4 separate regions of the Homo sapiens genome follow, and all the other regions are linked to region 1. The links come from fine-mapping of genetic effects on plasma protein levels. A gene starts in region 1. Each other region holds a variant in brackets. All regions are shown on one strand. Distances are between the middles of the regions.

The links. PIP is the posterior inclusion probability: the model's chance that the variant is causal. Protein levels are from antibody-based Olink assays in UK Biobank. Linkage for the fine-mapping came from a reference panel and not from the study's own genotypes, which makes the PIPs less certain.
Region 2: its variant is fine-mapped to the plasma level of the ADGRE1 protein (UK Biobank, PIP 0.99).
Region 3: its variant is fine-mapped to the plasma level of the ADGRE1 protein (UK Biobank, PIP 0.97).
Region 4: its variant is fine-mapped to the plasma level of the ADGRE1 protein (UK Biobank, PIP above 0.99). The variant lies in the coding sequence of ADGRE1. If it changes the protein, the assay may bind it differently, which can mimic a change of level.

The regions. Positions count from the first base shown.
Region 1 is chr19:6,883,529-6,891,718 of GRCh38, forward strand. It overlaps ADGRE1 (adhesion G protein-coupled receptor E1), which reads left to right and starts at 4,051. Exons shown (of 21, transcript NM_001974.5): 1 at 4,051-4,111; 2 at 6,953-7,015. The coding sequence starts at 4,081. RefSeq lists an enhancer at 4,045-4,104.
Region 2 is chr19:6,905,525-6,913,524 of GRCh38, forward strand. ADGRE1 (adhesion G protein-coupled receptor E1) reads left to right here. Exons shown (of 21, transcript NM_001974.5): 9 at 909-997; 10 at 3,165-3,248. It overlaps LOC105372256 (a long non-coding RNA gene), which reads right to left. Exons shown (of 3, transcript XR_936288.4): 2 at 6,761-6,864. Among named protein-coding and RNA genes, the nearest start is that of ADGRE1, 22 kb to the left of the region's middle. The variant G/A (reference allele first, on the strand shown) is at 2,577.
Region 3 is chr19:6,870,366-6,878,582 of GRCh38, forward strand. No RefSeq gene overlaps it. Among named protein-coding and RNA genes, the nearest start is that of ADGRE1, 13 kb to the right of the region's middle. The variant G/A (reference allele first, on the strand shown) is at 3,151.
Region 4 is chr19:6,895,264-6,902,999 of GRCh38, forward strand. ADGRE1 (adhesion G protein-coupled receptor E1) reads left to right here. Exons shown (of 21, transcript NM_001974.5): 3 at 1,135-1,278; 4 at 1,886-2,041; 5 at 2,165-2,284; 6 at 6,612-6,758. It overlaps LOC105372256 (a long non-coding RNA gene), which reads right to left. Exons shown (of 3, transcript XR_936288.4): 3 at 6,729-6,795. Among named protein-coding and RNA genes, the nearest start is that of ADGRE1, 12 kb to the left of the region's middle. The variant G/C (reference allele first, on the strand shown) is at 6,687.

The DNA.
Region 1 (8,190 bases):
ACACTTTATTCATATTTCTTTGGGGTTTTGTTTTGTTGTTGTTGTTGTTTTTGTTTGTTTTTTGAGACCAAGTCTTGCTGTGTCACCCAGGCTGGAGTACAGTGGTGCGATCTCAGCTCACTGCAACGTCTGCCTCCCAGGCTCAAGCTATTCTCCTGCCTCAGCCTCCCAAGTAGCTGGGACTACAGGTACGTACCACCATGCCGGGCTAATTTTTGTATTTTTAGTAGAGACAGAGTTTCATCATGTTGGCCAGGCTGGTCTTGAACTCCTAGCCTCAGGTGATCCACCCACCTCGGCCTTCCAAAGTGCTGGGATTACAGGTGTGAGCCACCGTGCCCAGCCAAATCTGACTGATTTTCAATGTGAAAATAAAATATAAAAACAGTTCTTGGAGTTATTTCTAACCAGAACTAACATCAGAATCGTCAATTTTGGAAAAATTGGATTCATCAGATAAATTTTCAGCCAACAACTGTTTGAGAATGATAGTAACATCATGCGTAGGAATGCTACACTTTTCTAGGATCTGACATTTTCAGCAATCAAGAATTACTGTATTTTGTAAAATATACTATAGTATATAGTAAAAAATACCATATTTTGTAAAATATAGTAATCTGGAAATATCCCTACTAAAAACAGAACACTATAAATAGAATCATGTCTTTTGTTTTCAAAGTTGATACACTAGAGCAATGCAAAAATAATAATAAAGGTGAGATATTTCACGGCAAAGTTATCTCTGGGTAAATGCTGCAGCCACAAGCGCCACCAGCTAGTATTCTTGGGGCCAACGGGGAAAGAATGAAGGCACAAACAGAAAGCCACTGATGAATCTGGCTAGACGCGGTGTCTCAGGCCTGTAATCCCAACACTTTGGGAGGCCAAGGTGGGAGGATCACCTGAGGTCGGGAGTTCCAGACCAGCCTGGCCAACATGGTGAAACCTCGTCTCTACTAAAAATACAAAAGTTAGCTGGGCATGGTAATACACGCCTGTAATCCCAGAAACTACTCGGGAGGCGGAGGTTGCAGTAAGCCAAGATCACGCCACTGCACTCCAGCCTGGGTGACAGAGCGAGAGTCCATCTCAGAAAAAAAAATAAAATAAAATAAAAAAAGAAAGCCATTGGTGAATCTTTGTTCCAGTGACAATAACTCCAAAGCTGGTAGTTTGCTTTGCAAAGAACAAAAGGGGAAGGCAAAAACACGTGGAGCTTTTCTTTCTAAGAATTCGGGGATGTTCTATGCACCTCCTTTGTACCTTGTGACAGCTGCTATCAGTGGCTGCCCACACCCATAACCTAACAACACATTAATATGCCCTAGCTTAACGCTGATACGGGAGCTAGAAAGAAGTTATTTAGGCAGAGAGTGAGGGCAAGAGAGTCCTCGGTAAGGTTTGCCTTTTAATAAAAAGCAGCCCCCAAATCATTTATTTTATTTTATTTTTTTTTTTTTGAGACAGAGTCTTGCTCTGTCGCTCAGGCTGGAGTACAGCGGCACAATCTCGGCTCACTGCAAGCTCCGCCTCCCGGATTCAAGCAATTCTCCTGCCTCAGCCTCCCGAGTAGCTGGGATTACAGGCGCATGCCACCATGCCCGGCTAATTTTTGTATTTTTAGTGGAGACGGGGTTTCACCATGTTGGTCAGGCTGGTCTCAAACTCCTGACCTTGTGATCCACCCGCCTCGGCCTCCCAAAGCGCTGGAATTACAGGCGTGAGCCACCGCGCCCGGCCAAATAATTTCTTTTCTAAAAAAGAGCAGTCTGAAAAATCAGCCGGCAGACATAGAAAAGCAAGCTGGAAGCTTGCTCGGGTGAATGCCGGCAGCTGTGCCAATGGGAATAGGCTACCTGGGTGCCAGGCGTGTTCAACATGCAGGCTTGCTCCATGTTCCCTTTTCTTTATCAACCACGTGTACGGTAAAGGAACAGGCAACATGGTCCTGGCCAGGTAGAGACCCCATCTGCATAATAAAATATTAGGGTGGGCAGCCAGCTTCTTTGTACTCTATGTAAACGGCACACCTGGTCCAACTAATCTTTGGGCCCTTATGTAAATCAGATATCACCACCTAAAGCTCATCTATAAAACCCCGTGCATTTCACCATGAAACTGGAAGACCCACTTGGGAGCCCCCTCTCTTTGCAGGAGAGAGAGCTTTTCTCTTTCTCTCGCCTATTAAATTTCTTTTCTTTCTTTCTTTTTTTTTTTTTTTTTGAGATGGAGTCTTGCTCTGTCACCCAGGCTGGAGTTCAATGGCACAATCTCGGCTCACTGCAACCTCTGCTTCCCGGGTTCAAGCGATTCTCTTGCCTCAGCCTCCTGAGTAGCTGGAATTACAGGCATGAGCCACCACACCTGGCTAATTTTTGTATTTTTAGTAGAGATGGGGTTTCACTATGTTGCCCAGGCTGGTCTCAAACTCCTGATCTTAGGTGATCCACCCGTCTCAGCCTCCCAAAGTGCTGGGATTACAGGCATGAGCCACTGTGCTCGGCCTAAACCTCTGCTCTAAAAGTAATTTTTTGTGTGTCTGCATTTTATTTTATTTTATTTTATTTTATTTTATTTTATTTTATTTTATTTTATTTTAAGACAGAGTCCCACTCTGTTGCCTAGGCTGGAGTGCAGTGGCACGATCTCGGCTCACTGCAGCCTCCGCCTCCTGGGTTCAAGCAATTCTCTGCCTCAGCCTCCGGAGTAGCTGGGATTACAGGTGCCTAACACCATACCACACTGGCTGATTTTTTGTATTTTTAGTAAAGACGGGGTTTCCCCATCTTGGCCAGGCTGGTCTTGAACTCCTGACCTCGTAATCCACCCTCCTCAGTCTCCCAAAGTGCTGAGATTACAGGTGTGAGCCACGGTGCCCGGCCATGTCTGTATTTTCTATTTCCTTGGTGTGAGGCAATGAACCTCGGGTATTACCCCAGATGGATGACACTGCTTCAATATCTGCCAGTCACTACACTTTGTTATCAGTGGGATTACATCAACTGGAGCCCATTCTATCTGCTTGGAGGCCAGGCCTGAAGATTCAAGGGGTTGACACCCTCTAGGAGCAAGCCTCAAGTCAACCCATGACTGACAGTAGGTGGGATATAAATACCTCAGCTCCCTCACCCCTCGGTTGGAATAACTGAAGAGTATGTTCCATGCCGCTCCCCAGTCATCCCTGGGGAGGTTAAGTTCCACTTTCTCACCATGTAACTTATTTGAAGACACACCCAGTATTGGCTCTTTGCCTTTCCTGATTCACTTTCTCCTCCCCCAGCTGGTGCTTTCTGGGGCCACCTTCTTGATAAACTACTTTTGCTAGAATCCTTGTCTGAGGGTCTGCCCTTGTGAGACCCTAAGATGTTACCAGAGAGAGTTAGGAAGCTGGGAATGGGGTGGAAGTGTTGCTGTATAATCGTCAGACAGAGTTGAGATCTGAAGGAAAATAAGATGGTTAAAGCTCTTGACTCTGGAATCAGAGGGTCCTGGGTTCAAATCTCAAGTCTGAGAGATCTTGGACAAGTTATAACTCCTCTGCAAGTCTCAGTTTCCATTTTGTTGGTGAATAGAGGGAGGGAGGGGAATTCCTACTTTACAAGGTTAACATGATAATGAAATTACACTTTGTTGCCAATGTGCCTAGCACACTGCCTGGTACATGATGGTTGTGATGGCTGTCTTTATACGGGAGACTGGGAAGAGACCCTAAAGGCTGAGATTTGCTTCACTGGAGGCAGGAAGCGGAAGCTCCTTTATTGGGTGCAATGAAAGAAGGTGTTGAGAGATGGGAGATAGATGTTGATGGGAAAGAAAAAGGGAGAGACCATGGGAAGGAGAGAGAGAGAGAATGATATACATTAGGCAGATTAACTTCTCTTTATTGTGAAGAAAGGGGGAAATTAGGATTTTCTAGGCTGTCTTTTAGTTGCAGCAAGTCAGCAAAAAGGGCTATGATGACCAGGCAGCATTGAGCAACTCTGACTCCGCCTTCCCCTCTTCGCACACCTTCTGGTTACTGAAAACCCAGCGTTAGTAGAAAAGTTTCTTTTCTTTGAATGACAGAACTACAGCATAATGCGTGGCTTCAACCTGCTCCTCTTCTGGGGTGAGTGTGAGGCTGAATGGGGGGCTAGGGGAGGCCTGGATTGGAAATAGACTTCAGGAGAAATGGGAGGGCCATGGATGGTCCAGCCAAGAGATCATAAGTCCAGACTGGATGCTGCAAACACCTTCATTCAGGGAACCTTTGACAAAATTCCATAGCTCAGGGAAGTCCATCTGTTAGGATAGATTTTTCTCTATAGTCATTCATTTGACCTGAGCAAGTCCTGTGTGTCAGGTGCTGTTCTAGGCACTAGAGGATATAGCAGTGAGAAAAAAAGACTAAGTTCCTGCACTCTTGAGGCTGATATTCTAGTGGGTAGGAGCAGACAGGAAAGAAGGCACAGATGATCATAGCCCACTTAGCACTGCTGTAACTTCTTTAAACATAGAGTGTATCCAATTGTCACAACATTTCTATGACATTGGGTCATTATTAGTCCTATTTTGCAAATGAGAAAACTGAGGCAAAAGAGATAAAATAATTTTCCCAAGGCCACTTAGTCAATAAGGGGTAGAGGCAGGATTTCAAGCCAGACAGTCTGACTTCAGAGTCTGTAAGCTTTTCCACTATACTATGTTGCCCCAAAAAATAAGTAAACATAGGAATTTCAGGTAGTGATAAGTGCTATGAAAGAAGTTGTTATAGAATGTGGTCGGGAGTTATGTTGAAGGGAGAAGTCTGGGGTTGAGGAGGGGCAGTTCGAGCTGAGTCCTGAAGGATGAGATAGACCCTTCCTGTGCTCTTATTTCTCTTTCTTCAGGTGTCAGTTTGTCTCAGCCTTGTTTATCTTCTGTGTTTCTGGTTTTTCTTCTATGTCTTGTGTGTTTTGGTCATTGGATCAAATTTAAGAATGGAGGATATTGGGGACATATTCTAAGTAGCAAGTATGGGTTTCCTCTGCTGTTGAAGAGTGGATCTGAATACCCTATTTTACCAAGGAGGAAACTGAGGCACAAAGAGATTAAATAACTTCCTCAAGGCCACGCAATCATTAATTGGTGAAGCCAGATTTTTAAACCTAAGCACTTTGACTTCAGACTTTGTATGCCTAAACAGCATGCTGAATTACCTCTAAAATAATTAATGAATGAGTAGAAGAATTTTTGTTAGTAATAATAGATAGAATTTGGGAGTTTAGATCTGTGGGACTTGTTGACTGGCAGGCTACATTAGAAGAAATAGGTGGCCTGTGGACATCAAATGTAGGCATGCAGAGTTGTTATTTTGGGGTGTTGGCAATGGTATTAACCATTAACACTCCCTATTCTGCCCTGAAGATAATCAGCAAAGAGTTGTGATAATGATAGTGATGATAATGATCATGATGGTGGTGGTTATAATAGTGATGATGAAAATGGTGATGATGATGGTGATGGTGATGATGATGATGATGATAATGGTGATGATAGTGATAATGAAGATGATGGTGATGATGATGGTGTGATAATGACCATGAAGATGGTGATGATGGTGATGATGATAATGGTGATGATAGGGATAATGATGATGATGGTGGTGATGATGGTGTGATAATGACGATGAAGATGGTGATGTTGGTGATTATGGTGGTGATGATGATGATGGTGGTGATGGTGATAATGGTGATGGTGATGATGATAATGGTGATGATGGTGATAATAATGATGATGATGATGGTGATGATGAAGATGATGATGGTGATGATGATAGTGATAATGATGGCGATAATGATGATGGTGCAGGAGACCTAAATGCTGCAGGGCTGCATTGCCTTTAAACACTAAAAAATGGGCAGGGCGCAGTGGCTCACGCTTGTAATCCCAGCACTTTAGGAGGCTGAGGCAGGCAGATCATGAGGTCAGGAGATCGAGACCATCCTGGCCAACATGGAGAAACCCCGTTTCTACTAAAAATGCAAAAATTAGCTGGGCGTGGTGGTGCGTGCTTGTAATCCCAGCTACTCGGGAGGCTGAGGCAGGAGAATAGCTTGAACCAGGGAGTTGGTGGTTGCAGTGAGCCTAGATCACGCTACTGCACTCCAGCCTGGTGACAGAGTGAGACTCCATCTCAAAAAAAAAAAAAAAAAAAAAAAGGAAAGAAAAACGAATTGCCCTACCCTCTCATGAAATGTTAATACTACAGATATACTGTATACCTATATATGTATTTTCTATATATACATATGTATCTTATACATAAAAGAGTAAGCTTAAAAAGATCTCTTCCTGAGAACCAAGTTTGGGTCCTTAGAGGATATATCACCCCTTTTGAGAATGCATGCTTTAATGTATGTTTTTGAAAATCAGCTAGAACTTTTTTTTTTAGACAGGGTCACCTAGGCTGGAGCGCAGTGGCATGATCTTGGCTCACTGCAGTCTCTATCTCCTGGGCTCAAGCAATCCTTCCACCTCAGCCTCCTGAGTAGCTGGGGCTACAAGTTGTCACCACCACCCAGCTAATTTAAAAAATTTTTTTTTTGTAGAGACAAAGTCTCACTGTGTTGTCCAGGCCGGTGTCAAACTGCTGGTCTCAAGTGATCCTCCCACCTTGGCCTCCCGAAGGGCTGGGATTATAGGTGTGCACCACAGTGCTTAGCCTGGAACTATTTAATCAAAAAGAAAAAGAAGATAAAGACAGACAAAATGAAAAGCAAAAGCAAAGTACAGAAAACCAGGAATGGTCATTGTTAAGCTTATGCAAAATAGTGTATGTTTGTTCCTTAACTAGGTTTGTCATCTAGCCTCTTCAAACCTATTTCTGTGGGGCCAAGCCAGGAGTAATTTTGCAGGTTGAGCCCAAAAGGTTTTTTTTTTTTTTTTTTTTTTTGGTGGTTCATGGTGTTTTTCTTTTCTTTCTTCACAGGATGTTGTGTTATGCACAGCTGGGAAGGGCACATAAGACCCACACGGAAACCAAACACAAAGGGTAAGTTGGCCAGAGAGAATGCAGATGCCTGAAGGGGTAGAGAAAGTTTTCTCCCCGGGGAAACATCCCAGGAAGCTGAGCCTCATCCAGATGCTTGCTGGGAGCTAGTTAGCGGCAGAGCAAGGGTTAACATGCAAGTCTCCTGATTCTCACTTCAGGCTCTTTCCTTTGTGCTTAGAATTGCTGTGTGATCTCAGATAAGTCACATAACCTCTCTGAACTTCAGTTTCCCAAGCTGTGAAATACAGATAACAATAGGGATGTTGTGAAACTTTAATTCAAAGAGGTAGCTTTGGAAACCACCTGGTATGTAGTATGAGCTTTATAAATGGTAGTGTAGTGAGAGTAGGGATGGAATTTACTCAAACTACAACTCAATGTGCAAAAAAAAAGTGACTTCTTTATGTTTTGTTAAATACTCTCATCTACATAAACTCTTGCTGGATAAAGGAAGAAAGACATTGTCAGTTCGTAGTTGTTGATATGGTTTGGCTATGTCCTCACCCAAATCTCACCTTAAATTGTAAGAATCCCCACGTGTCAAGGGCGGGGCCAGTTGGAGATAATTGAATCATGGGGGATGGTTTCCCCCATACTGTTCTCGTGGTAGTGAGTAAGTCTCACGAGATCTGATGGTTTTATAAATGGGAGATCCCCGCACAAGCTCTCTTGCCTCCTGCCATGTAAGTAAGACATAATTTTGCTCCTCATGATTGTGAAGCCTCCCCAGCCATGTGCAACAGTGAGTCAAATTAAACCTCGTTCCCTTATAAATTACCTAGTCTCGGGTATGTCTTTATTAGCAGCATGAAAACAGACTAATACAACTGTTCCCAGTGTCTCTGTTTCCTGGTTCTTCTTTGGGCAACTTAGCAACTTGGTCTATATTGTGTTAACAGCTCATCTTTCACATTTTTTTTTTTTTTTTGAGATAGATTCTCGCTCTGTTGCCCAGGCTGGAGTGCAGTGGTGCGATCTCGGTTCACTGCAAGCTCCGCCTTCCAGGTTCACGCCATTCTCCTGCCTCAGCCTCCCGAGTAGCTGGGACTACAGGCGCCCGCCACCACGCCTGGCTAATTTTTTTGTATTTTTAGTAGAGACGGGGTTTCACTAGAAACCAGGCTGGTCTTGAACTCCTTAGGTGATCTGCTCACCCCAGCCTTCCGAAGTGCTGG
Region 2 (8,000 bases), 22 kb after region 1:
GTATTTTTAGTAGAGATGGGGTTTCACCATGTTGGCCAAGCTGTTCTTGAACTCGTGATCTTGTGATCCTCCCACCTCAGCCTCTCAAAGTGCTGGGATTACAGGTGTGAGCCACCGTGCCCGGCCAACCTTTCTTTTAAAAAAGAATTTCAGAGTCCTTTCCCCTCCCCCCAAGAATAATGGGGAACCATGAAAGGTTTAAAACTGTTAAATTATGTATTATTTATTACATTAAAAATATGTGTAACTTATTGGAGGCAATGAAGTATAACAAGCAAATGAATATATCTGATGTATTTCCAAATATAATAAAGATAATATCATCAATGTCGCTGGTTCTCCTATATGTTTCTTCTCCATTCTATCTCCTTGTATCCTCCTTAGACAGCCACTTGGAATTTTGTGTTTATTATTTCCCTACTTAAAAAAATATTTTCCCATGGTATGTACCCCTAAACAATATCTGCCTAGTATTGCTTGTGTTTGGAGCTTTGTAAAAATGATATCATACTACATATGACTATAGATGTATGTCTTTTATATGTATGACTTCTCTAATTTGCTCTGTTTCACTCAATATCATGCCTCTTAGAGTGTAAGCTGTGCAGGGACATAATATTGAGTGAGAAGTCACACATATAAAAGACATACATCCACAATCATATGCATGATTGCCTCTAAGAGGCATGATATTGAGTGAAACCGAGCAAATTAGAAAATTGTGTGTTGTAGTAAACACGTCCTTCATGTTGTAGTGTGTAGTTGTGGTTTGTTCATTTTCCCCCTTGTGTATTAGGGTAATAGATGGATTTTAAGTCGGGCACGGGAGGACATGAAATCAGACTTGAATTTTCATCTTATTTTGCTGAGGTTGAAGTTTGGTTTGGTTGCTGTTGTTTTCTTCCTAGGGGTTCTCTTCAAATGTAAGGAAGATGTGATACCCGATAATAAGCAGATCCAGCAATGCCAAGAGGGAACCGCAGTGAAACCTGCATATGCAAGTATTTTTTAAGGTTCCTAGTTTTTGAGGTTTTCTTAGAAGCCATTTAGGTAGAATGTTGTTTTTGCAGTTCTAACAAAGGCAAAAGTAATAGTGGCCAAAACCAGACAGCAGTTTATTTTTCTCCTCTGTAACCTGCTGAGTGTAAGCTGTGCAGAGCTCATACCATGGCTCCATTATGCTCTGCCAGCATCAACACAAGACTCCCACTTTGTGGCCCAAGGTGGCAGCTCCAGCTCCTGCCCTCACATCTGCATTCCAGCTTGTGGGAAGGGGAGAAGAGGAAGTGAAAAGTACGGTCCTTCTCTTTAAGCGTATGACCCAGCACCACTTCTGCTTGCACCTGATTGGGTAGAAATTAGTCACATGGTCCCACCTAGCTGCAAGGGAAGCTGGGAAGAGAGAATGTTTGCCTATCTAAAACTTGAGGATTCTCTTAATAAAAGAACGGGAGAATATATTGGAGTCTTCCTGCCAGTGAAGGTGTTGATGCTGCAACTGAGTAATGTTGGTGTGGGGGTGTTACACAGCCAGCCAGGCCAAAAGGAATTTGGACATCCTGACTGTCTAATGAAGTCATTACAATGAGTAAAGACTCCATGACCTCTTTAGAAATCAATGTCACTATTCTAAATATGAGCTTGTAAATTGGCTATGGGCTTCCCACATGCCTTGGACCACTGTTTTTCTTTTTTAATTGTGGTGAGGTACACATAACATAAAATTCACCACTTTAACTATTTTAAAGTGTGCAATTCAGTGGCACTTAGACCATTCACAATGTTATGCAATCATCACCTCAATCTAGTTCTAGAAATTTTTTTTTTTTTTTGAGATGGAGTCTTGCTCTGTTGCCCAGGCTGGAGTGCAGTGGGGTGATCTTGGCTCACTGCAACCTCCGCCTCCTGGGTTCAAGCAATTCTTCCTGCCTCAGCCTCCCAAATAGCTGGGACTACAGGCACCCACCACCATGCCTGGCTAATTTTTGTGTTTTTAGTAGAGACGGGGTTTTGCCATGTTGGCCAGACTGGTCTCAAACTCCTGACCTTGAGTGATCCACCTGCCTCAGCCTCCCAATGTTCTGGGATTACAGGTGTGAGCACCGTGCTCAGCCAAGTTCTGGAATATTTTTATCACTAAGCAGTCACTCCCCATTCTCCCCTCCCACTAGCCCATGGCAAACACTAATCAGCTTTCTGTCTCTGTGGATTTGTCTATTCTTGACATTTCACAGAAATGGAATCATGCAATGTTTGCTCCTTTGTGTCTGGCTTCTTTCACTTAGCATGATATTTTCAAGGTTCTTTCATGCTGTAGTACATATCAGAGAACTCCATTCCTTTTTATGGCTGAATAATATTCCACATGGACCACTGTTAGTTCATACATTTCCTCTTCTTTTAATATCACTGGTTGGGAACAGGCCCCCCAAAATCTGGCCATAAACTGGCCCCAAAACTGGCCATAAACAAAATCTCTGCAGCACTGTGACATGTTCATGATGGCCATAATGCCCACACTGGAAGGTTGTGGGTTTACCGGAATGAGGGCAAGGAACACCTGCCCAGCCCAGGGC[G/A]GAAAAATCGCTTAAAGGCGTTCTTAAACCACAAACAATAGCATGAGCCATCTGTGCCTTAAGGACATGCTCCTGCTGCAGATAACTAGCCAGACCCATCCCTTTATTTCGGCCCATCCCTTCGTTTCCCATAAGGGATACTTTTAGTTAATCTAATATCTATAGAAACAATGCTTATCACTGGCTTGCTGTTAATAAATACGTGGGTAAACCTCGTTCAAGGCTCTCAGCTCTGAAGGCTGTGAGACCCCTGATTTCCCACTTCACACCTCTATATTCCTGTGTGTGTGTCTATAATTTCTCTAGTGCCGCTGGCTTAGGGTGTCCCCGATTGAGCTGGTTTCAGCAATCACTAAGTAGTTTTGCTATTTGTTTATGTTTGCTTTTTTTATTCATGGAAGGAAAAGGTGATGTGATTCTAATTCTGATCAAGTAATGAGTTTTAGTTTCCCTGAGAATTCTAGAGACTCAGGAATTCAGAGCCACCTCATATGATGGGCTTTATGGGCTAATTTGTAGATTACATGCTTGGGGGAATACATCGATTCATGCTCACAAATGCTCTTTTTTTTTTTTTCTGGGACGCAGGTCTCCTTTTGTGCACAAATAAATAACATCTTCAGCGTTCTGGACAAAGTGTGTGAAAATAAAACGACCGTAGTTTCTCTGAAGGTAACGATTGGGTCTTTTAAATTGTGTTTTGAGTTTCAAACATCTTGGGCACACTTTGGGTGCAGAAAGATGTCTTTATGGCTGGGCGTGGTGGCTCACACCCATAATCCCAGCACTTTGGGAGATTGAGTCAGATGAATCACTTGAGGTCAGGAGTTCAAGACCAGCCTAGCCAACATGATGAAACCCTGTCTCTACTACAAATACAGAACTTAGCCGGGCATGGTGGCAGGTGCCCATAGTACCAGCTACTCAGGAGGCTGAAGCAGGACGATTGCTTGAACCCGGGAGGTGGAGGTTGTGGTGAGCCAAGATAGCACCACTGCACTTCAGCCTTGGCAACAGACTGAGACTCCATCTCAAAAAAAAAAAAAAGAAAGAAAGAAATATCTCTTTATAATGAATGGATTGTGAATTAATATTTAATTTTTTATAGCTGTAAGATTTGAAAAATTAGCATACAGTAAAATTACCTTTTTACTTGTATAGTTTGATGAGTTTTCTCACCTGAATAGACTTGTTGAACTACCACTATAATTAGGATGCAGAACAGTTTAATTATCTCCAAACATTCCCTTGGGCTTCTCCTTTATAGTCAGATACTCCCTCCACCACTAAACTCTATAAATCCCTGATCTGGTCTCTGTCACCAGAGTTTTGTCTTTGGAAGAGTGTTATATAAATGAAACCACATAGTATGTGGTCTTTTGAGACTGGCTTCTTTGACTCAGCATAGTGCATTTGAGATGCCTGGATAGTGTGTATATAAACAATGCCATTTCCTCCTCCTCCTCCTTCTTCCTTCTTTCTTTTCCTTCCTTTTTACTGTTAATGAGATTCAGCACATTCTCATTGCTGTATATAACCATCACCATTATCCATCTCAAGAACTTTCTCATCTTTCTCATCTTTTCAGGGGGACAGAATTGGTTGGTGGTTTTTTTTGTTTGTTTGTTTTGTTTTGTTTGTTTGTTTGTTTTGAGATGAAGTCTTGCTCTGTTGCCCAGGCTAGAGTGCAATGGTGCGATCTTGGCTCACCGCAACCTCCACCTCCCAGGTTCAAGCGATTCTCCTGCCTCAGCCTCCCGAGTAGTTGGGATTACAGGCATGCGCCACCATGCCCGGCTAATTTTGTATTTTTAGTAGAGACGAGGTTTCTCCATGTTGATCAGGCTGGTCTCAAACTCCCGACCTCAGGCGATCCACCTGCCTCGGCCTCCCAAAGTGCTGGGATTAGAGGTGTGAGCCACCAAGTCTAGCCAAAAGCTAGTTTTTCTTAAGCTTTAAGTTGAACTCATTGATATTGTCATTTTCTTTATAAATCTGGTTATTTTTGTATGAAAATAAGAATAACACTTTTACTTATAATTGTATTAATTTTAAATTAATACATTTATTTTTATTCATAAAGTATACATTCATCCCTAGGGTTTTCAGATTAAATTTTGATAAATGATTAATCCTATTTACAAACTTAGTTCAATTTCCTCGAATGTTTTATACTATGTTTATAAATATTCCAATTCCCCCCTCCCGCTCCACCCAAATTTCAAGTACCTGGTGAAGAGGATTTACAAATCTAATAGGCAAAGTCACTTGGGTCCTGAGCGACTCATAAATCCAATCGATCGAATCTATAAATATAATAATTCAGATTCTTTTAGACATTCAATATGGTTTATAAATAGCCACGTTCTCTTAAATTGTTCATATTAAAATAACAAGTCTAATTGCTTTTTGCAATAAAATTATGTGGTTTATTGGTTAGCTTCTCTAATGTGTCAAACTGTTCCAACTCTTTTTTTTTTTTTTTTTTTGAGATGGAGTCTTGCTCTGTTGCCCAGGCTGCAGTGCAATGGCGCAATATTGACTCACTGCAAGCTCCGCCTCCCGGGTTCATGCCATTCTCCTGCCTCAGCCTCCCAAGTAGCTGGGACTACAGGCGCCCACCACCAAGCGTGGGTAATATTTTGTATTTTTAATAGAGACGGGGTTTCACCATGTTGGCCAGGCTGGTCTCGAACTCCTGACCTCAGGTGATCCACCCACCTCAGCCTCCCAAAGTGCTGGGATTACAGGCATAAGCCACCACACCCAGCCCCAACTCTTTAAATAGGAGATGTTTCTAGATTATGCTAAAGATGTCAAAAACTTCTAAATTTAACACAAATCCTACTAAGGATGTTTAGTTTGCCTAAAATTTTCTAACTTTCCTGAGGATATAAAATAACTTCCCTAGCTAAGAATAAATTTAACATATCAGAGGGGCGGGATTTGAAGAGATTTTGCCAGTTGTCGAACTGAGTACTATGTTTCCTGGAGATGGTCCTAGTTGAGATGTTTCTGCTATGTCAGTGGGGAGGGGAGTCCCACACCCATGCCTTTTGGGGATTACAGAGCTCAGGGCTTCCTGTTTCTCTTGGACAAATATCTCTCAAATGTCCCGCTTACCCCGTGTTTATTGAAATCCTTTTTTTCCTTTTATCATCTAATTTGGATAGATAGAAACTTGTATTGCTGCTCAAATTTCAGTTTAATTTCCTCTACCATCTGACTGGATTTAATTCATTTAATGCATTTTCCTGCATTTATTAGGTTCTGGATTCCTTTTAGTTTTTTTTTTTTTTTTTTTTGCTTGGGTCAGAGTCACATGTGATAGTCAATTTATTGATAATAATCAATAATAAGGGGAATCATATGAATATTACTATTACTATTGTTGTTATTGTTTTTCTTACCTTAATCCTATTCCTCAAACACATCCAGTGTTAAGAGGTAGATAAGTATCTTCCCCTATCTTTTTACCTTGTAAGCATGTACACACATACACACATATACATACATACACATACAAATAAACACACACACATATACACACATGCGCACACACATACACATACATACAAATACATACACGTATACACACGTGTACACACACATATACACCTCCCCCACATGCACACACATGCACACACAGTATGTACACACATACACACATATACATATGCATATACACATATAACATACATACACATGCACACATACACATACAAATGCATACACACACACCCCACACACATTTACACACATACACACACCCCACACACATTTACACACATACACCCCACACACATTTACACACATACACACATGTATACACACATCTATGCATGTACCCATACACACATACAGACATACACAGACATCTACACACAGATACACACATACACATCCACACACATATACACACTCCTGACACACATACACACATATATACATACAGGCATATACAAATGTACACACATACACAAACACACATATATACACACACGTATACATACATATACACAAACACACATACATACATAGGCATACATAGACATACACAGAGATATACACACATGCACACGCATGTACACAACCCAACACATACACACATATACACACACCCACATATATAAGCACACACACACACATGCACACACAGTGCAGTCATTTTATTGAGCACTTACTATGAGAGGTTTAGGACAGTGATTAATGATTCAGCCTCTGCTGCCAGACTGCCAAGGTTCAAATCGTGGTTCTTCCACCTGCTAGATATGAGTCCTTGTTTCTCCTTTCAAAAATCAAAATAATCATAAATAGCCTCTACTTCATAGATATCTTCTACAAATTAAACAAGTTAATATATAAAAGACATTTAGAGCAATACCTGGCTCGTAATAAGTGTGTGCTATTTTTATTTCTATATGCCAGAACATAAATACCATAATATAAAATTTTAAATTAAACCAATTGTTTCTAAACCAAATGCAATACTATATACATGATACTCTGTAATTTGCTTTAGTGAACAGTGGCTCAGAGACCCTTTTGCTTGTTAATGCCTATAGGTATACTGCAATATTCATTTTAACAGCTGTATGGCTGTTATTTGATTTCATCTTCATTTATTGACCCAGTCTGTAGGGCATTTAGGCTTTCCACAAACTATCCTGAGATGAACATCACTGGACAAGATCCTTGCACAACTTTTAAGTATTTCTGAAAAGATTAATTCCAGGAAGGGGAATTGCTGTGTCAAAGGGTATATGCAATTTACATGGCTATGGGTACAAACTTACTGCATTGCATAAAGGTTACATCAATTTGTCTTTCTTGCTTGCTTTCTTGCTTTCTTTTGACAAGATCTCACTCTGTCACCCAAGCTGGAGTGCAGTGGAGTGATCATAGCTCACTGCAGCCTTGAACTCCAGGGCTCAAGAGATCCTCCCACTTCAGCCTCCTGAGTCGCTGGGACTAGCGTCATGCACCACCGTGCCTGCTCTTTTTTAATTTGTTTGTACAGATGGGGTCTTGTTATGTTGTCCAGGCTGGTCTTGAATTCCTGAACTTCAATTTGTATTTCTTTTTTTTTCTTTTTTCAGACAGCCTCTCTCACTGTCGCCCAGGCTGGAGTGCAGTGGTGCGATCTCAGCTCACTGCAAGCTCTGCCTCCTGGGTTCAAGTGATTCTCCTGCCTCAGCCTCCCAAGTAGCTAGGATTACTGGCACGTGCCACCATGCCCGGCTAAATTTTTTTGTATTTTTAGTAGAGACAGGGTTTCACTATGTTTGCCAGGCTGGTCTCAAACTGCTGACCTCATGATCCACCCACCTCAGCCTCCCAAAGTGCTGGGCTTACAAGTGTGAGCCACTGCACCCGGCCTGAATTTGTATTTCTGATGGGGCTTCTTGAATCAGAAAAAGGAGC
Region 3 (8,217 bases), 13 kb before region 1:
TTGACAAGCACTGTTAACAATGCTACAGTAAAAATATGGATCAGTCCGGGCACGGTGGTTCATGCCTGTAATCCCAGCACTTTGGGAGGCCAAGGTGGGCAGATCGTTTGAGGTCAGGAGTTGGAGACGAGCTTGGCCAACATGGTGAAACCCCGTCTCGACTAAAAATACAAAAATTAGCTGGGCATGGTGGTGCGCGCTTGTAATCCCAGCTACTTGGGAGGCTGAGGCAGGAGAATTGCTTGAACCCAGGAGGCAGAGGTTGCAGTGAGCCGAGATTGCACCACTGCACTCCAGCCTAGGCAACAGAATAAGACTCCATCTTAAAGAATATACATAGATCATTTCCATCATTCCCCTAAGTCCCCTGGGACCCTCTTGTAATTCATCCTTCCCTCCACCCCGGCCCTAGGTAACCACTGATTTGCTTTCTCTACCCCTAACCATATATGGTTTGTGTTTTCTAGAATTTCAAATACATAGAGTGGTTAATTTTATATGTCAACTTGTCTAGACTGTGGGAAGGTATTTTTAAGCTATGATTAATGTTTATAGTCAGTTGACTTTCAGTAAATTAGATGACTCTCTATAAAGTAAGTGGGCCACTTCTAATCAATTGAATTCCTTAGGAGCAAAGATAGGTTTCCCGAAGAAGAAGGAATTCTGACTTCAGACTTTAACATAGAGATATAGAAATTCTGCCTGTGAATTGCAACAAAAGCAAAAATTGACCAATGGGATCTAATTAAACTAAAGAGTTTCTGCACAGCAAAAGAAACTGTCATCAGAGTGAACAGGCAATGGCCGGACCTGGTGACTCACGCCTGTAGTCCCAGCACTTTGGGAGGCTGAGGAGAGTGGATCATGAGGTCAAGAGTTTGAGACCAGCCTGGCCAACATGGTGAAACCCTGTCTTTACTAAAAATATAAAAATTAGCGGGGCGTGGTGGTGGGTGCCTGTAATCCCAGCTACATGGGAGGCTGAGGCAGGAGAATTGCTTGAAGCTGGGAGAAGGAGGTTGCAGTGAGCCGAGATTATGCCACTGCACTCCAGCCTGGGTGACAGAGCAAGACTCCATCTCAAACAAACAAAAAATTAACTGGGCATGATGGCACATGCCTGTAGTCCTAGCTACTGGGGTGGCTGAGGTGGGAGGATCACTAGAGCCCAGGAGGCTGAGGCTGCAGTGCCGAGATTGTGCCACTGCACTCCAGCCTGGGCAACAGAGCAAGACTCTGTCTCAAAAAACAAAACAAAACAAAAACAAAAGCAACAAACAAACAAAAAACGAGTGAACAGGCAACCTACAGAGTGGGAGAAAATCTTTGCAATTTATCCATCTGACAGAGGTCGAATATCCAGAATCTACAAGAAACTCAAACAAATTTACAAGAAAAAGACAAACAACACCATTGAAAAGTGGGCAAAGGACATGAACAGACACTTCTCAAAAGAAGACATTCATGCAGTCAACAAAAATATGAAGAAAAGCTCAACATCAATGATCATTAGAGAAATGCAAATTGAAACCACAATGAGATACCATCTCATGCCAGTCAGAATGACCACTATTAAAGAGTCAAGAAACAATAGATGCTGGCGAGGTGGCAGAGAAATAGGAATGTTTTTACACTGTTGGTGGGAAAGTACATCAGTTCAGCCCTTGTGGAAGATGGTGTGGTGATTCTTCAAAGATCTAGAACCGGAAATACCATTTGGCCCAACAATCCCATTACTGCAAATATACCCAAAGGAATATAAATGATACTATTACAAAGATACATGTATGTGTACTTTCATTGCAGCACTACTCACATAGCAAGGACATGGAATCTACCCAAATGCCCATCAATGATAGACTGGATTAAGAAAATGTGGTACATATATACCATGGAATACTATGCAGCCATAAAAAGGAATGAGATCGTGTCCTTTGCAGGGACACGGATGAAGCTGGAAGGCATTATCCTCAGCAAACTAACGCAAGAACAGAAAACCAAATACCACATGTTCTCACTTATAGTGGGAGCTGAAAAATGAGAACATATGGACACAGGGAGGGGAACAACACACACTGAGGCCTGTCAGGGGGTGGGGTTGGGAGAGGGAAAGTATTAGGAAAAATAGTGAACTCATGTTGGGCTTAATACCTAGGCGACAGATTGATAGCTGCAGCAAACCACCATGGCACATGTCTACCTGTGTAACAAACTTGCACATCCTGCACATGTACCCCAGAACTAAAAATACACATTTAAAAATGTTTTTAAAAAGAAACAAGGCTGGGTGCGGTGGCTCACACCTGTAATCCCAGCACGTTGAGAGGCCGAGGTGGGTGGATCACCTGAGGTCAGGAGTTCAAGATCAGCCTGGCCAACATGGTGAAACCCCATCTCTACCAAAAATACAAAATTAGCTGGGTATGGTGGCACATGCCTGTAGTCCCAGCTACTCGGGAGGCTGAGGCAGGAGAATTGCTTGAACCCGGGAGGCGGAGGTTGCGGTGAGCCGAGATCACGCCATGGCACTCCAGCCTGGGCAACCCAAGAGTGAAATTCCCTCTCGGGGAAAAAAAAAAAAAGAAAAAGAAACAAAGCTGGGTGTGGTGGCTCACGCCTGTAATCCCAGCACTTTGGGAAGCCAAGGTGGGTGGATCACCTTGAGGTCAGGAGTTCGAGACCAGCCTGGCCAACATGGTGAAACCCCATTTTTAATCTCTACTAAAAATACAAAAGTTAGCCGGGCGTGGTGGTGCATGCTTGTAATCCCGGCTATTCAGGAGGCTGAGGCGAGAGAATCGCTTGAACCCAGGAGGCAGAGGTTGCAGTGAGCCAAGATTGCGCCATTGCACTCCAGCCTGGGTGACAGAGTGAGACTCTGTCTCAAAAAATAAATAAAATAAAATAAAATAAATTTTAAAAGAAGAAAGACATTTTGCCTGTGCTTTAAGCCTTTGGGCCCAAGACTGCAGTATCACCTCTTACCTGAATCTGCAGCCTGTCAGATTGCCTTAGGGATTTCGGACTTGTAACCCCTACAATCCCGTGAGCCAGTTCCTTAAAATCACTCTCTCTCTCTTTCTGACTCTCTGTCTCCCTCTCTCTGTCTCTCTGTTTCTCCTCTTAGTTTTGTTTCTCTGGAGAATCTTG[G/A]ATAATACAAGATCCTTTTAGTTTATTCCCTCTTTGTGTCTGGCTTCTTTTCTGTCTTTTTTCAAAAATTTGCATGAATGTATGAGGTACAAGTCCAGTTTTGGTACATGGATTACTGCTTAGTGGTGAAGTCTGGGCTTTTAGTGTAGCCATCACCCGAGCCATGTACATTGAACCCACTAAGTAATTTCTCATCCCTCACTCCCCTTCCACCCTTCCAAGTCCCCAGTGTCTATTATTCTACACTCTACGTCCATGTGCACGCATTATTTAGCTCCTATTTATAAGTGAGACTATGTGGATTTGACTTTCTGTTTCTGAGTTGTTTTATTTAAGATAACGGCCTTCAGTTCCATCCAGGTGTTACCAAAGACATGATCTCATTCTTTTTTATGGCTGAGTAGTATTCCACAGTTCATATATGTGGGGGGTTCAGTCAGAGTGGTTGGAAAAACTATAAGGAAAGGACTCAAACCTTCTGAAAGTTTGGAAGGTTCTGCAGAGCCCCGGGGGAGGAATAGCTGAAGGCAGCTGTTCTATAACCCTGAGGCAGAGGGCAAGGAGTAGGTACAAGGGAGTGTGGGCGAATTTATCTTAAGCAGGCCTGTTTACTTACGTTGACCAGGAACTGACTTTTGATCATCTGCCTATGTGATGTTCCCTGAAAGGGGAGCAATAAATGTTAATTACCTACAGGTTGTGTGTACTCCATGTTTTTGGCATTGTGCCCACACTGAACAAATGCAAGCAGCTCCAGCTTCTCGGGGCTGCTCTCTGGCCGCTAGAGCCAGGCAGTCACCTGGCTGCTCTTACACTGCATACCTGTGTCTGACTACTCATTTCATCCCATCGGCCAGGGTCTGCGGGACAGACCCAGTACACATACACCACATTTTCTTTATCCAGTTGTCTGTAGATAAGACACTTGGACTGATTTCATATCTTTGCTCTTGTGAATAGTGCTGTGATAAACCTACAAGTGTGGGTATTTTTTTGAGAAAATGATTTCTTTTCATCTGGGTAGAGTGGGACTGTCAGAACGCCTTCTCAATTTTTTTCTTTTTTTAGAGATGGGGTCTTCCTCTGTCACTCAGGCTGGAGTGCAGGGGTGCAATCATGGCTCACTGCAGCCTCAAATTCCTGGGCTCAAGCGATCCTCCTACCTCAGCCTCCCAAGTAGCTGGGACTACAGACTTGTAGTAATTTTTGTATTTTTAGTAGAGACGGGGTTTCACCATGTTGGTCAGGCTAGTCTCAAACTCCTGACCTCAAGTGATCTACCCACCTCGGCCTCCCAAAGTGCTGGGATTACAGGCATGAGCCATCACACCTGGCTCCCTCTTCTGACTTTTTGCTCTGTATCCTTTCACTGTAACAAATCATAACCATTAGCAAGACTATATGCTGAGTCTTCTTAGAGAATCATTGAGCTTGGGGAGGGGGGTCTCCGGGACGCCTGATAAACCACCCCTACCTTTAAAGAAAGAGCCTTAGGAGCCATAGATAAACCATGAAGTCTTTGGAGGACAATGAAGTCTTTGCATCCACCTCCCTCTTAGAAACCCTGATTCTTTTCTCCTGCAAAAGGGCAGCTGCTGTTCATTTCTCACCCCCTCAAGAATTGTGGTCTTCCTTCTGGGGAAGCGGGGTAGGGATGCAAAGTTCAGTAGATTCATCTATTTCTCTTCCCTTCTTTTTCCTCATTTGTTTCTTTATTTTCTAGGATACAACAGCCAATGAAATTCTTTCCCTGCCCTGAGAAAATGCTCAGTTTTTTGAGGGAAACAGACATTCAAGCAAGCATAGATAATACTGACTATGGTGATGGGGGGGGAGGATGGAGGAGGCGCCTCACTCTCAAGTGGAAGTCAAGGAAGGCTTCCTGGAGGAGGTGATATTTACACAGAAAGGTTGTATAGGATTGGGGTGAATGTGCATTTCAGACTTGGTGTCAAGAGAGAACTGGGTTTGGTGGCACATGCCTGTAATCCCAGCACTTTGGGAGGCTGAGGCAGGAGGATCGTTTGAGCCCAGGAGTTTGAGACCAGCCTGGGCAATAAAGCAAGATCTCATCTCTAAAAGAGAAAAAAAAAAATTAGCAGGGTATGGTAGGGTATGCTTGTGGTCTCAGCTATTTAGGAGGCTGAGGTGGGAGGATTGCTTGAATTCAGGCAGTTGAGGCTGCAGTGAGCTGTGACTGAGCCGTTGCACTCCAGCCTGGGCAACAGAGCAAGTCCCTGTCTCAAAAAAAAGAAAAGAAAAAGAGAGAGAGTTTGAAGTAGAACTTGCTGTGAGGTTTCTTGTGCACAGGTGTTTTTGAGGGAGAAGATCAGGACAGAGCAAGGGAATGAGCTAAGCAAGGAAGTGGTCTTAGCTGGAGTCCAGCCTTAGCCGGATCCCATGGGGAGCCCTGGAGTGTGACTGGTGCCACCAGGTTGGTCTCACCCTGGGGGCATGGGGCTGGCCTTCTGCACCTCTGTGACCATCCGTTATGGCTGTGGGCTGGGTCTGAGGGTTTGCACAGTTGCTCAGCTGAGGAGAAGGGGGAAGCTGTGAGCTATGAGCTATTGTAGGCAGCACTCACTCACAGCAGCCCCAGGATGGGTGCACCAGCCTGGGAAAGGTCAGTGAGCAGAGCGTTGACTGCACCCACAACAGGGACTTCAAGTATTTTATAATCACTGGGGGGCTTTTTGTTGTTGTTTTTTTGAGACAGGGTCTCACTCTGTTGCCCAGGCTGGAGTGTACTGGTGCCATCACGGCTCACTGTGACCTTGACCTCCTGGGCTCAAGCAATCCTCCCGAGTAGCTGGGACTACAGGCATACACCACTAGGCCTGGCTTATTAAAAATTTTCTTTTATAGAGATGGGGTTTCTCCATGTTGCTCAAGCTGGCCTTGAACTCCTGGGCTCAAACAGTCCTCCCACCTTGGCCTCCTGAGTAGCTGGGACCACAGGTGTGCACCAGCCACTATGCCCAACTAATTAAAAAAAAATTTTTTTCTGTAGATTCAGGATCTCAGTATGTTGCCTTGAACTCCTGGGCTCAAGCGATCCTCCTGCCTTGATTTCCCAAAGTGGTGGGATTACAGGCATGAGCCACTGTGTCTAGCTGATCACTAGGGCTTTAGGGGGAGTGGAGATCAATAAAACAAGATGGGGAGACCAGAGTCAGACTACGTAGAGCCTTGAGTGCCATATTAATAAGCCTGAACTTCATCCTGAGGGCAATAGGGAGCCATGGAAGGGTTTAGAGTCTAAGCAGGGCGTGGACAGGTTAGGCAGGGATTCCCCAACTTCCCTGCCCCTTCCCGGCACTCTGTGTGACGGTAAGTGATGTTCCTGCAGCTCCCCAGGCTGATTTCTTCAATCTTGAGAGTCCCTTGTATTCCCCTTTGCTAGGGAAGTCATTAGGGGTTAGATTTTGTAAGCTTCTTGGCCAGAATTGTTGATTTCCTCTTCCACATCTTTCCCCTTCCTGTTCTTACACCCCCACCCGCAACTCTGCAGGGCCGCTGCAGGACAGTCTTTATATAGCTTCGGTCACCTCTGTGGGTTTGAAGGGTGTCTGGAGTCTTGGGTTTTCAGTGTCTCACTAGGACCCGATACCCTGCCTGTGGTAGGTGGGATAAAGGGCCTCCTCTCCCTCCACGAGGCACCTACAGCCTAATCCCTAAAGCCCAAGGATGTGTTCCCTTCTATGACAAAAGGGACTTTTGCAGATGGGATTCAGTTAAGGGCTATTTTTTTGGGGGGGAGGTGGGGGGAGTGGGGACAGAGTCTTACTCTGCTGCCCAGGCTGGAGTGCAATGGCACGATCTCAGCTCACTGCAACCTCTGCCTAATGTCATTACAAGAATTCTTACGAGAAGGAGACAGGAGGATCAGGGAGAGAGAGAGAGATGGAGAGATAGAGATACACAGAGAGTGAGAGAGAGAGAAAGAATGAGAGAGAACGAGAGAGAGAGAGAGAGAACAAGAGCAATAAGGAGAGTGAACAAGACAGACAGAATGGGCCAGGCGCAGTGGCTCGCGCCTGTAATTCCAGCACTTTGGGAGGCCGAGGCGGGCGGATCACTTGAGGTCAGGAGATTAAGGCCAGTCTAGTCAATATGGTGAAACCCCATCTCTACTAAAAATACAAAAGTTAGCCAGGTATGGTGGCAGATGCCTGTAATCCCAGCTACTCGGGAGGCTGAAGCAGGAGAATCGCTTGAACCCGAGAGACGGAGGTTGCAGTGAGCCGAGATCGTACCACTGCACTCCAGCCTGGGTGACAGACTGAGACTCTGTCTCAAAAAAAAAGGAGAAAAAAAAAAGAGAGAATGAAAGAGCAAGAGGGAGGGAAAAATGAGAGAATAAGCAAGAGAGAGAACTTGAGAGAGAGACAGACAGAGAAAAAGAGAGAGAATGAGAGAGCAAGAGAGAGGGAAAATGAGAGAGAGAGAGAGAGCAAGAACGAGAGATTTAGAGTACGCAAGAGACATTTGAAACTGCTAGCTGCTGGCTTTGCATAGGAAGGAAGGGACCATGAGCCAGGGCATGTGGGTTGCCTCCAGAAGCCAGAAAGGACAAGGAATGGATTCTGCCCTGGAGCCTCGGGAAGGATTGCAGCCCTGCTGGCATCTTGGTTTTAGTCCCATGAGACTCGAGAGGACTCTGACCTCTGGACCCATCATATACTAAATCTGTGTTTTCCCCAAGCTGCCAGGTCCGTGGCAAGCCTCATCCCATCCCCATCCCCAGAAGGGATCTGGGTTTGATTGCAAAACCTTCCAACTCTTTAGCCCAGCCTCCAAATGTCGAATCCTTCTTCTGTCTCAAACTCCCCTGCTACATCTAGACAGTCCCCAAATTCGGTTGTTCCTGCCTCCTAAATTCTCCGTCACTATAGCCCCTGCCCCAGACCAGGCCACTGTTCTCTTCTCTCTCCTGGCTGTATCCCCAGCCTCCTCCCTATCTGCCCACCTGTGAACCCATCCTGTCCAATACCCACCTACAAAACACAAACATAAAATTCCAACCTGAGCCTGTGGCTCCTTTGCTGAACCTCCTTTTATTGCCCC
Region 4 (7,736 bases), 12 kb after region 1:
CATCACTTCTATTCATTCTCCTTGGCCAGATTTTCACCAGGTGGCCACAGCTAGCTGCAAGAGAAGCTGGGAATGCAGTCCTAAACTGGATGGTTCTATTATTATAAGGAAGAGGGTGGAATGGATTTGGGGGAACAGCCACCATTCTTGGCTTTGAGGTTTGCTGCTGGAACTTGAACTCAGATCTGCCTTGTCCCGAAATTTGCAGTTTTCACTCTCACACTTTTCTGTCTAGTGCTTGGATGTTCATGGTGTGATCCATGGAGCAACAGAATTGGCATCCTCCAGGCACTTGTTAGAAATGCAAAATCCCCGGCCCCCTTCCCCAGACCTGCTGAATTAGTACCTGATTTTCCAAGATGTTCTTGGAATCCAAGGGGAGGCAGGTGATACTGGTCTGTGGATACTTTGGGTAGCAAGGATCCAGATGAGTGCTTCTCAAACTTCCCTGTGCGCACACATCACCTGGGATCTTGTTCAAATGCAGATTCTGATTCAATGGATTTTGCATTTCCATCTAACTCCCAGGAGATGCTTATGTGGCTGACTCACAGACCCTACTCTGAGTAGAAAGGGTCTAGGATCTTTGAGGTACATGGTTAAATATGATTGGTTGCTGTATCCGTTTCCTAGGGCTGCTTAAAATGACAGAAATTTATTCTCTTCAAGTTCTGGAGTCCAGAAGTGTGAATTCAAGGTATTGGCAGGGCCAGTCTTTCTCCAAAGGCTATAGGGCAGAATCTGTTCCATGCCTTTTTTTAAGGCTTTTGTTATTGCTGGCAATCCTTGGTGTTCCTTGGCTTCTAGACATATCACTCTGATCCCGGTTTGCACTGTTGCATGGCACTGTCCCTGTGCATGTCTGTGTGTCTCTTCTCTTCTTATAAGGACACCTGTGGCCCACCCTACTCCAGCACTACTTCATCTTAACTTTTATCTTAATTGCATCTACAAAGACCCAGTTTCCAAATAAGATGAAATTCACAGGTACCAGGGTTTAGGACTGTAACGTATCTTTTGGGAGGAACACAATCCAACCCATAACAGTCACCTCCACCCTTGTATGCTGGGTTCCCTTGCAGCCTCACTCTAATGCTCTAATCTTGTCTAAACTTTTCTTTATACACTGCCTAGGTAATAACTGTAGAGACAGTACCTTGTGCCCAGCTTATGCCACCTGCACCAATACAGTGGACAGTTACTATTGCGCTTGCAAACAAGGCTTCCTGTCCAGCAATGGGCAAAATCACTTCAAGGATCCAGGAGTGCGATGCAAAGGTGAGTTCATGTCCCCTCAAACCATCCAGCATTTGGTAGGAAAATCAAGTCAAAGCTGGCTGGGTATTGAATGTAGGTACTCCCCCACCCCCCATTTTTTTTTAAATCTGGTTTAACTATATATTTTAAGTGGAGTATTAGGTCATTTCTGTTCAAGGTTAATATTGATATGTGGGGGTGTTGTTACTGTCACAGCATTGCTAGCTAGTGTTGCTAGCAAACATGATTTTCTTCCTTCCTTCCTTCCTTCCTTGCTACTTCCCCACCCTTCCTCTCTTTGATCATGTAAATAATTCCTGGTCACTGTAAAATTTCATGGATGGTTGAGTTTCCTCACAATATGGTGGCTGGATTCCAAGGATAAGCATCCCAAGAGAACAAGGTAGAACTACATGATATTTTTATGACCTAGTGTCACTTCCACCATAGTCACAAGTATGCTCAGATTCAAGATGGGGACATACCTTCCATTGCTTGACAGAAGAAGTACCAAAGTGAAGTGCATATGGGATGGGAGATATTGTTTTAACTTTTTTTTTTTTTTTTTTTGCAAAATACAGTCTTCTATCTAGTATAAGTAAATTTGTAACTCCAATTCTCTGTCTAGATATTGATGAATGTTCTCAAAGCCCCCAGCCCTGTGGTCCTAACTCATCCTGCAAAAACCTGTCAGGGAGGTACAAGTGCAGCTGTTTAGATGGTTTCTCTTCTCCCACTGGAAATGACTGGGTCCCAGGAAAGCCGGGCAATTTCTCCTGTACTGGTAATGCTCTCAGGTTCCCAGGGATGGGTCTTGGGTGGATATCTATCAGTGGGGTGAGTTCATGTATTTCTGAACTGAGGCACCCAATTTCTTATCTGCTCACCCTCTTCCACTGCTTCTCAGATATCAATGAGTGCCTCACCAGCAGCGTCTGCCCTGAGCATTCTGACTGTGTCAACTCCATGGGAAGCTACAGTTGCAGCTGTCAAGTTGGATTCATCTCTAGAAACTCCACCTGTGAAGGTATCCATGACCATCTCTTTATTATTTACCTACTTAATTAATTAAGGGTCATCTCACTGGAAGACCATATGAGAAAGGGATTTTCTCATGTAGGGATAAGAAAATTGGGGCTCAGAGAGGTAAAAATATATAGTTGCTTATATCTTTTTCTATCCCTTTACTTTGAGCCTGTGGGTGTCTTTACATGCTAGGTAGGTCTCTTGTAGCCAGCACATGGTTGGGTCTTTTTAAAAAATTTTTTATCTGGTTTAACAATCTATATCTTTTAAGTGGAGCATTAGGCCATTTCTATTCAAGGTTAATATTGATATTTGAGGGTTTTGTTCCTGTCACAGCATTGCTAGCTAGTATTGCTAGCAAACATGATTTCCTTCCTTCCTTCCTTCCTTCCTTCCTTCCTTCCTTCCTTCCTTCCTACTTCCCCACCCTTCCTCTCTCTGATCATGTAAATAATTCCTGGTCACTGTAAAATTTCATGGATGGTTGAGTTTCCTCACAATATGGTGGCTGGATTCCAAGGATAAGCATCCCAAGAGAACAAGGTGGAAGTACATGATATTTTTATGACCTAGTGTCACTTCCACCATAGTCACAAGTATGCTCAGATTCAAGATGGGGACGTACCTTCCATTGCTTGACAGAAGAAGTACCAAAGTGAAGCGCATATGGGATGGGAGATATTGTTTTAACTTTTTTTTTTGGCAAAATACAGTCTTCTATCTAGTATAAGTGAATTTGTAACTCCAATTCTCTGTCTAGATATTGATGAATGTTCTCAAAGCCCCCAGCCCTGTGGTCCTAATTCATCCTGCAAAAACATGTCAGGGAGGTACAAGTGCAGCTGTTTAGATGGTTTCTCTTCTCCCACTGGAAATGACTGGATCCCAGGAAAGCCGGGCAATTTCTCCTGTACTGGTGATGCCCTCAGGTTCCCAGGGATGGGTCTTGAGTGGATATCTATCAGTGGGGTGAGTTCATGTATTTCTGAACTGAGGCACCCAATTTCTTATCTGCTCACCCTCTTTCACTGCTTTGCAAATATCAGTGAGTCCCTCACCAGCAGCGTCTGCCCTGAGCATTCTGACTGTGTCAACTCCATGGGAAGCTACAATTGCAGCTGTCAAGTTGGATTCATCTCTAGAAACTCTATCTCTTTATTATTTACCTGCTTAATTAATTAAGGGTCATCTCACTGGAAGACCATATGAGAAAGGGATTTTCTCATGTAGGGATGAGAAAATTGGGGCTCAGAGAGGTAAAAATATATAGTTGCCTATATATTTTTCTATCCCTTTACTTTGGGCCTGTGGGTGTCTTTACATGTTAGGTAGGTCTCTTGTAGGCAGCACATGGTTTGGTCTTTTTTACAAAAATTTTTATCTGGTTTAACAATCTATATCTTTTAAGTGTAGCATTAGGCCATTTCTGTTCAAGGTTAATATTGATATTTGAGGGTTTTGTTCCTGTCACAGTGTTGCTCGCTACTTGCTTTGTGATCTCAGTTGTGTAATTGCTTTATAGGATCTGTGAACTATATGCAAATATTAAGTGGAAGAGCTGGGATTTGAACTCCTGCTGAGGACCTACTATAAGTCAAACAATGGTATCAGAATATAATGGGGTGCACTTGTCTCCAGACCGATATTTTCCCCAGGGGACATTGGCAACATCTGGAGATATTTTTGATTGTCTCAACCGGTGATGGTGGGGAGAGGTGCTGTGTATGGCATCTGATGGGAAGAGGTCAGAGATGCTGCTAAACATCCTATAATGCACCGAAAGGCCCCCACAACCAAGAATAATCTGACCCTAAATGCCAATAGTGCTGAGGTGGAAAAACCTTATTCTGGGCTGGGCGCGGTGGCTCACGCCTGTAATACCAGCACTTTGGGAGGCCAAGGCGGATGGATCACTTGAGGTCAGGAGTTCAAGACTAGCCTGGCGAACATGGTGAAACCTTGTCGCTACTAAAAATACAAAAAATTAGCCGGGCATGGTGGCAGGCACCTGTAATCCCAGCTACTCGGGAGGCTGAGGCAGGAGAATTGCTTGAACCTGGGAGGCGGAGGTTGGAGTGAGCTGAGATTGTGCCATTGCACTCCAGCCTGGGCAACAGAGCAAGACTCTGTTTCAAAAAAAAAAAATACCCAACAACAAGAAGAACAAAACACACAAAACCTATTCTGGGGAGATTCTAAAGTCTAAACTTCAGAACGTTCCCCTAAAAGGTATTTGAATTAACAGTTGAAAGTTATCTTTAATCAGCCGGGCGCAGTGGCTCCTGCGTGTAATCTCAGCACTTTGGGAGGCCAAGGCAGGCAGATCATGAGGTCAGGAGATGGAGACCATCCTGGCTAACAAGGTGAAACCCCGTCTCTACTAAAAATACAAAAAAAAATAGCTGGGCCTGGTGGCACGTGCCTGTAATCCCAGCTACTTGAGAGGCTGAGGCAGGAGAATGGTGTGAACCCAGGAGGCAGAGCTTGCAGTGAGCCGAGATCACACCACTGCGCTCCAGCCTGGGTGACAGAGCGAGACTCCATCTCAAAAAAAAAAAAAAAGAAAGTTATCTTTAATCTTTTCTCTCCCTTCACATTAAAGCAGTCATCACACCTTGGAGAATCTACCTGCTAAATATGTTTTGAGACTGGGTGTGGTGGCTCACACCTGTAATACCAGCACTTAGGGAGGCTGAGATGGGAGAATCGCTTAAGACCAAGAGTTTGAGACCAGCCTGGGCAACATAGTGAGACCCTGTCTCTACAAAAAAAAAAAAAAAATTAGAAAATTAGCCAAGTGTGGTGGCATGTGCCTGTGGTCCCAGCTACTCAGGAGGCTGAGGTGGGAGGATCACTTGAAACCAGGAGGTTGAGGCTGCAGTGCACTATGCTTGCATCACTGCATTCCAGCCTGGATAACAGAGCAAGACCTTGTCTCAAAAATAAATATATAAATAAATATGTGTTGAATTCCTCCACTGTTTTCCATCCTTGGTTCAGGCTTGATCATCACTGCAGCAGCCTCCTCTCTAGTCTTGCCTTTTTCAGTCTTATTCTCTCCAATCCATCCTCTACACTGCAGCCAGAATGTCCTCACCAAGAGACAAGAGCTCCATCTTCCTGTGTCTAGTGCATTGTTATTCTCCACATTCATTTATGGGATGGTGACTCCATTGAGAAAGGCAAGGAGTGGTCAAGCCCTCATTATATCCCCCTGGCTTAGTTTAAGAGATGTTTGAAATCATCTCTGCCTTTGCTACTCCATTTGTAGCAGTGAGCTATCACTGGGTAACAAATTGTCTTAAAAATTAGTGTCTAAAAACAACCACCATATATTTAGCGCTTGATTCCATGAGTTGACATTTTAAGTGGTCTATTCTAGCCAGATCTTTTGGTCTCAACTGGTCTTGTTCTTGTGTCTGCAGTCAGCTGACCTTGGCTGGGCTTTTGTCTTGTTGCCTCTGCCACCTTAGGTGTGAGCCTCATCCCCATGGTTGGGAATGGATCACCCCACTCTGTCCATCTTCCAGCCCAGGTGAAAAGGGAGAAGAAGTGTAGAGTATGCTCTTTCTTTTCAAGGGCATGACCAGATGGTGCACACATCACTTCTATTTATTCTCCTTAGCCAGATTTTCACCATGTAGCTACACCTAGCTGCAAGAGAAGCTGGGAATGCAGTCCTCAGCTGTATTGTTACATTATTACAAGGAGGAGGGAATGGGTCTCACATGTCTGGGGCTCATCTGGGATGATTCATTTCTCTCCCATTTGGTCTTTTGTTCTTCATTAGGCTAGTCAGGGGCTTGTTCATATGGCAGAGATCAGAGGCCCAATAGAATGAACAGAAGCCAACAGGTCTCTTGAGGCCCAGGTTTGGAATTAGCACCTCATTACTTCACTGTCTTCTATTGGTCAGTGCAAGTCGTAGGGCCAGCTGTATTTAAGGGGTAGAGAAACAGACTCCACCTCTTAATGCAAGGTATGGTAAAGTCACATCTCTTACAATCTACATCTTGGGGTGTAAATACAGAGAGAAGTAAAGGACTATGGCTACTTTTCCAATTTCTGATAATTATGTTTTGAAACTATTTGCCACCCTTCTGCTTACATGCTATTGGCTAGAATTTGCTCTCATGGCCATGCCTACTGAAAGAAGGAACTGGGAAATATGTCCCACTGTGTGCCTGGGAAGAAGGGGGGAACATGGATATTGGGGAGCATCAGCCCTGTCTGCTGAAAATCAACACTCAGAGTGCATCTCCTATTTGTAGTCTCTACTCCTTGCTTTCTCATTTACCTTGACCTGGGTTTTCTCTTCCACTCTTCAGACGTGGATGAATGTGCAGATCCAAGAGCTTGCCCAGAGCATGCAACTTGTAATAACACTGTTGGAAACTACTCTT[G/C]TTTCTGCAACCCAGGATTTGAATCCAGCAGTGGCCACTTGAGTTTCCAGGGTCTCAAAGCATCGTGTGAAGGTAGGTGGGGGTGTCTTCTGAGAAGTCAGGTCCAAGTCTGTTTGAAAAGACAGCAGTGAGGGGATTAGGGTGGGTCTTGGTTGAGTTTGAGACTTTCATCTGCAAATCTGAAGCCAATAATCATTCATTCACTCATTAAAGAAATACCTCTTGAGCACTTACAGTATACGTGGCACTATTCTAGGCACTGGGGATAGAGCAGTAAATAACATCTCCAAATAACATCCCACTGGGGCTTAGGGCTTCCATATAGGAATTTGGAGGAGGGGCACCATTCAGTCCATAGCACCCATGAACAAACAGCTTGTAAGTGACAGAGCCAGGCTATGAACCCAGAATGTCCATGTTCTCAACCCCTCCACTGTGTGCCTCTTTTTGTTTGTTTGTTTGTTTGTTTTTTGTTTTTTTGGGGTTTTTTTGTTTTTTGGTTTTGTTTTGAGATGGAGTCTTGCTCTGTTGCCCAGGCTGGAGTGCAGTGGTACAATCTCGGCTCACTGCAACCTCCCCCTCCTGGGTTCAAGCAATTCTCCTGCCTCAGCCTCCCAAGTAGATGGGATTACAGGCATGTGGCACCATGTCCAGCTAATTTTTGTATTTTTAGTAGAGACAAGGTTTCACCGTGTTGGCCAGGCTGGTCTCAAACTCCTGACCCCAGGTAATCTGCCTGCCTCGGCTTCTCAAAGCGTTTGGATTACAGGCATGAGCCACTGCGCCCAGCCTGTTTTTTGTTTTTGAGACGGAGTCTTGGTCTGTCGCCCAGGCTGGAGTGCAGTGGCTTGATCTCAGCTTACTGCCACCTCTGCCTCCCAGGTTCAAGCAATTCTTTTGCCTCAGCCTCTTGAGTAGCTGGGATTACAGGTGTGTGCCACCATGCCCAGCTAATTTTTTATTCGGGACAGGTAAGCCCCAAAGTGGGGTTTAGCTCACAAGGGTTCTTGGCTTTGCCCAGGAGAGAATTCAAGGGCAAGCCAGAGGTAG